Linked DNA regions of Homo sapiens: region 1 is linked to region 2. The links come from fine-mapping of genetic effects on gene expression. Tissue or cell type: whole blood. Region 2 holds a variant in brackets; the other region holds the start of a gene. All regions are shown on one strand. Distances are from middle to middle. Region 1 holds the start of LHFPL2 (LHFPL tetraspan subfamily member 2). Region 2 overlaps LHFPL2 (LHFPL tetraspan subfamily member 2).

The links. PIP is the estimated chance that this variant, and not a neighbour inherited with it, causes the effect.
Region 1: LHFPL2 starts here. The variant in region 2 is fine-mapped to the expression of LHFPL2 in whole blood (INTERVAL, PIP 0.92).

The regions. Positions count from the first base shown.
Region 1 is chr5:78,647,453-78,650,353 of GRCh38, forward strand. It overlaps LHFPL2 (LHFPL tetraspan subfamily member 2), which reads right to left and starts at 1,320. Exons shown (of 5, transcript NM_005779.3): 1 at 1,047-1,320. RefSeq lists silencers at 569-628, 919-1,858.
Region 2 is chr5:78,510,899-78,513,799 of GRCh38, forward strand. The region is part of intron 3 of LHFPL2 (LHFPL tetraspan subfamily member 2); the gene reads right to left. Among named protein-coding and RNA genes, the nearest start is that of LHFPL2, 140 kb to the right of the region's middle. The variant A/C (reference allele first, on the strand shown) is at 1,478.

The DNA.
Region 1 (2,901 bases), 140 kb after region 2:
CTCTAACAGCTCTGGCTCGCCGGAATCTTTCCTCCCTCGGCTCCAGCACACACTTTCCATAGCGGCCGCGTTGCAATTTCAAAGAGTTCTCCTTTCCACGTAGGTCACCCACCGATGGTAACCTACATGCACAAACACACTCGCACAATCACAACAGAGAAAATGGGACATACAGGAAATGGCCCGGGTGGAGGCGAGGACGGGGGTGGGGATAGGACTTTGTCTTTACTCTGGTGTTGCTCCCATTGAAACAAGCACATGGACTTTCATGGAACTCATGACCATCCTGAAATAACAGAAAAGTCGAACGGGATTGAAGAAAATCCTTTGCTTTTCTAAGTTCGAAGAACACTGGGCCGCTGAATGGAAGGGAAAAGAAAAAAAAAAACTGTGTGCCTAAAAACATCCAGAAACACACGCAGAGTCTCCCCAGTCCTTTGCCCAGCCCGTGGGCTCAAGCCGCCCATCCCAGATGCGGTCTTCCCCACTCCACGCCCACCTCTTCCAGCCCGCACCCCAAATCACTGAGCTGCCCACAAAAATGCAGTCCAGATTTGAGAAGCAGCTGACGTCTGTGGCCAGAGTGACCCACACGCCACGGACCAGGGACAGCAGGGGCGACCACGGGGCGGCCCCCAGGGAGCGGTGCCAGGCGCGCTGGAACCCGGCGCCCAGCTGCGCCTGGGACCCACGCGCCGCCGTCCGAAGCCCGCCAGCGACGCCCAGAGAGCAGGGCTCGCGCCGGCTTCCCGAGGAGACGCTGTTCCCGGCACAACTTTTTTCCACTTCTGCGGCCGCCGGCGGCGCTGAGAAGCAGCTGTTCCCTTCCCATTCCCAGCACCCAACGCCCATCCCGCAGCACCTCCGACCGCTCGGCGCGGTCTCCCAGGGCGCCGAAGCGAAGTTCCCGCGCCAGCCGCGGCTCAAGCAGCCAGGGCTCGGCCGGCCGCAACGGCTCCCCATGCGCCCGCGCGGGGCGCCCACCTGGCCGGGCCCACCGGCTCTCCCCTCCCGCAGCGCGCGCGGGCCCGACGCCTGCCACTCACCCGGCCCCAGCTCGGCGTCTCCGGCTCCGAGCCCGCAGCCTTCCCCAAGTCAGGGCTTTCAGTGACGCCTCCTCGCAGCCACCTCGCTCTTGCCCCCGCTGGCCGCGCCTGGAAGAAGGAGGCGGGAGGAGAGCGAGAGGAGAGCGGGAGGAGGCGGCGGGAGAGGGGGGCAACGCAAGGGAGGGGAGAGGGTCCGCGGCGCGGGGGAGGAGGCAGCGAGGCGAGAGAGCGCCAAGCTCGGCGGCCGCCCGGGCTAGCACTCGGGGAGAGGGAGGAGGAGGAGGGGCGGGGGCAGCGAGAGAAAGAGGCGGCCGAGCCGCCCTGCCCAGGCCCCGGCCCCGCGCCGCTGCCCAGTCACCATCGCCGCCTCCGTCCCGCGAGCGGGCCGGGCGTCCGGGGGAGGGGTCGGGCTCGGGGCTCCCGGCGCGGCGCGCGGGGCGGGACGGGGGCGGCGGGCGGGCGGACCAGGCCCGGCCTCCGGAGGGGAGTGTCCTGCGGGTCCGGGAGGGAGTCGGCGACAGGGGATCCCCGAGAGGGGGTGTGGGGGCCTGGGAACCGGTCCCTGAGCCCGCCGGGCAGCGGCGGCGGCGTCTCCCGGGGTCCTGCGAGGTTCCTCCGGGCCGCACCGGGGAAGCTCCCGGAGCAGCTTCGAGCAGCCCTGCCGGGAGGGCCGGAGGCGGAGAGCGGCGCTGACGGAGCCGGGGGAGAGAGGCCAGGCTGCTCCGGCGGAGAGCGGGCCCCGGGGCGCTAGGAGCAGTTCCCCCAGACCCGGGCCCAAGCGGAAAGAACGGCCGTCTGGTGACCCCGGAGAGTCCGAAACGGGAAAGGGGCCAAGGGGCGCCTGGACCCCCATCCTCGCCGCCCTCTTCCGGAGAGGAGGCTCCGGACATAAGTTCCCGTGCCCTCTGAATATCTAGGTGTGGAAACTCAATTCCAACAGTCACAAAGATTATTCCTAAATAGAATGCTTGGTGTCCTCAGCTTCCCTGCCCTCAAAATTACGGTTTCAGGATGATTTTCGGAGGCGCTTTAGGAACAGCCTGAAAAGGCATTCTTGTCCAGAGAGGGGATGCTTTAACTCCCCAGCTCCGCCCCCAGGGCTGGGAGCAAAGAACAGAGTTAAATGGCCATGAATTCAGGTGCCAGTATTGTTTGTGATTGAACTGTTAGGACGTGGCACCTCTCTAGGCAAACCCATCTTGTATTCCACCCCTCGCCACCCCCCCGCCCCCCGCCCAGTCAAATGCTCCCATTCCCAGTTTCTCAGCCCCTTGTCTGGGACACCTCTATCCACCAGTCGCCCAGATTCAGATTAGCAGTCAATTTTGGGCCTCGCTCCTCCACTCCCGGTAGCCAGTCCCATTAGTTCTTCATTTTTAATGCCTTTCCAGGTGCCATGTCCTTTCAAGCCCACTGCCGCCTTTCTGGTTCTCGCTATCTGGCACTGGATGGCGTGAGCGGCCTCCTACCGGTTCTCTGCTGGGGTCCTCTCTACACTTGCATCCATATGCGCAGGCCTACAGGTGAATGGCTCTAGAATACCCCTCAGGCAGGCCACTTCCTGTTCTAGAAGCTTTCTGAGGCACTTTGCCAGAGAACATTCTGAATTCCTTAAAAATCATCAGTTCAAAACCATACAACAACTGCACCTCCATACGCACTTCTCAGAGCCTGGGACTCTCTTTAGATGGGGATCCTCCCCTCCCCCCGAGAAAGATCCATGCCTGTATCTACACGAGAGTTGCTGATGCTCTTCCCAGAGCTGGAATGCTCTCTTTCATCTTCTCCCGCAGCCAAATTCCACTTATCTTCATTGAAAATGAAGTTTGCAGTACCACATTTTTGCTCTAAAAGG
Region 2 (2,901 bases):
TAACAGTAGAGAGTAGCAACACCCCGCTTTTATTTCCTCGAAATTAAATTACTAGCAGAGACATAAGTGTGTTTGCTTCATAGGTAAATAGGAAAGAATCACATGTAAAAGAATAAACAAAACATTGCTCCCATACCTATACTTTATCCATTTTTCACAGGGTGATTTTTAGACAAAATAATTTACACTAATTAAAACTCAGAGGGGAAAAAAAAAAAACCTTAAGAGTTCATGACTTACTTGGGGAAATTATTTTTAAAAGACATTAATGACCGTTAACTAAGCATCATTACAACTGAGTGGACTTGTTGACAACAGAACCTTGTCTATGAAGAATGCATCCCTTGAATTGTCCCAATTCATCCCATGTGCCTCTGCCTAAGCTTCGATTCACCCCAGGTCGGGAACTCAACATGCCCATTGTTTCTCATTTCACAGAGGCCTCATTCTGTCTCCACGGAGGAATGACTTCATTACCAGAAGACATTGCTCCAGTGGCTCAAGCCTTCTTCAGAGGAGTCTGGACCCTGAAATGGGGGCCAGCAGGGCTGGTTTGCAGCCCCATTTTCTGCCCCATTCCAAGGCCAGGAACAATCACATAGCTCACATCTGGGCACATGGCCCTGCTCTGAATGATTAGATCTCATTAACCGAGGTCAAATCAACTCCATGAGAACTGCAAAGAGCCCCCTGGCATGTTGGGAGTGGGGTGAGGCAGGGAGTTATCGAAGAGGAAGAGAAGCGGAGAAATAAGGAAGCCCAGTGTCAAAGCTTAAAATGCCCGTTTCTACACCCTGCACCAGCTGTCTGCCTGCTGGCTGACTTCCTAGTGAGCATGTGACTCTACCCATCCCTTGAAACATGATGTATTTTAAAATCCTCATATCATGGTAGTTGCTATACAAGATGCTATTTTGGGGACACAGCTAGTGCACTACTAGGAACATATGCACTTAATTGTCAGGGTGTGTGTGCGTGTGTCACAGCGCTGTGCCAAGCACTGGGTAAGGGAAGGGAGTCCATCAGGTATGGGTTCCAAAGCCAGCTCCAGCACTGACCATATGGATGCCTAACTTCTCAGAGCTCCCTCGTCTGAGCCGGTAAGGGTAGCCTACCTCACCAGATTGTTGCAAGGAATGAACAAGAACCTACTGAAGCACCCAGCACAGTGCCTGGCAGAGTAAGTGCTCAACAAATATCAACTCCCTGCCCTCCGAAGCTTTTCCTGTAACATAGATGACACCGTTCAGACAACTATTGATCCAACTGAGGTGCCCAGCAGATTACAGAAACCTGGCCACTGCACACAGAAAACATTAAGCACAGGCTACTTAGAGATGGACGAAGTCATTCATGTCTAAACTTACCTTGCAGCCTTCAAGGGCAGAGTCCTGGTCTTCCTGTTTCCCCACTACCTAACTCAGCTGGTGTTTTTATATTGGATATACCTTCTGGCTGAATGCTAATTTATCTCCAC[A/C]AGCTGGATAATTTATATCCAACTGGTGGAGATAAATTAGCATTCAGCCAGAAGGTATATCCTACTCCGACTCACTCATTCTCAGCTCCCTCCTCCAGATAGTACCAAACAGAAAGCCTTTTGAGAAAAAAGTTACTAAGGGCTTTAGAGGAGATTGTTTGTAATGAAAATGATCATTCTAAAAGAGAACAAGAAAATGAGCCACAAGGACTCCCAGGAGGCCCTGAGAGCCTGCACGTACCCATCAGGCTCACAAATACTTTGGGCCCACAGGTGGCAAGCCCAGCCTGTTGAGAGCTATAAAGCCTTCCCATTTGATTAGAAAACCATTTTACTGTTATGCACAATCTCTTTCCCATCCCTTTTCTCTGTTAAATGTAATTTTTCTTTTCTTTTTTTTTTTTTTTTAGATGGGGTCTCACTGTGTCACCCAGGCTGGAGTGCAGTGGCATGATCTCGGCTCACTGCAACCTCTCTGCCTCCCCTCTCCTGCCTCAGCATCCAGAGCAGCTGGGATTACAAGCACACACGACCATGCCTGGCTAAATTTTTGTATTTTTAGTAGAGATGGGGTTTCAGCATGTTGGCCAGGCTGGTCTCAAACTCATGACCTCAGGTGATCACCCACCTTGGCCTCCCAAAGTGCTAGGATTATAGGCGTGTGCAACCACCCCTGCCTGAATGTAATTTTTCAATGAGAACATTCATATTTGTCCTCTTGCAGAACTGCAGGGCTCCTACAACCTCTCGGGTGACTTGTATCTTAATGACTACTCGAGTGTCCACTGCCCTGGCCAGCAAGCTCTACTCAGAGTAAGGAATGCAATTAGTTTGCAGCTTCTGAAGAAAAAGGCTGTAAAAGTTCAGGACAGGAGAAGATGGGACATCTGGGCTTAGCAAAATGCCTGAGAACAATTTGAAGGCAGGATTACTTAAGGACCCACATGCTTAAGTAAAAATAATATAGTTCCCTCTCCTTTATGCTAAAACATTTCCTCATTCACTGCACCAAATTCTCACACCCATACAAGATTGGCTGGGATAAGGGCTTCATTCTTCTGTTTTCAATAGGGGGATAAGATGCTCTGTTCTCCCTAGTAAGTTTGCTAACTGCTACTATCAGAGGAACAGTGGTGATACGCAAGGCTGACTAAAATCGAGGCTTCCTGGGGGTGGTGATATGGTTTAGCTGTGTCCGCACCCAAATCTCATCTTGAATTGTAGCTCCCATAATTCTCACGTGTTATGGGAAGGGCCCGGTGGAAGATAATTGAATCATGGGGGCGGATCCCCCATACTGTTCTCATGGTAGTGAATAAGTCTCACAAGATCTGGTGGTTTTATAAGGGGAACCTCTTTCACTTAGTTCTCATTCTCTCTTGTCTGCCACCATGTAAGACATGCCTTTCACCTTCAGCCATGTT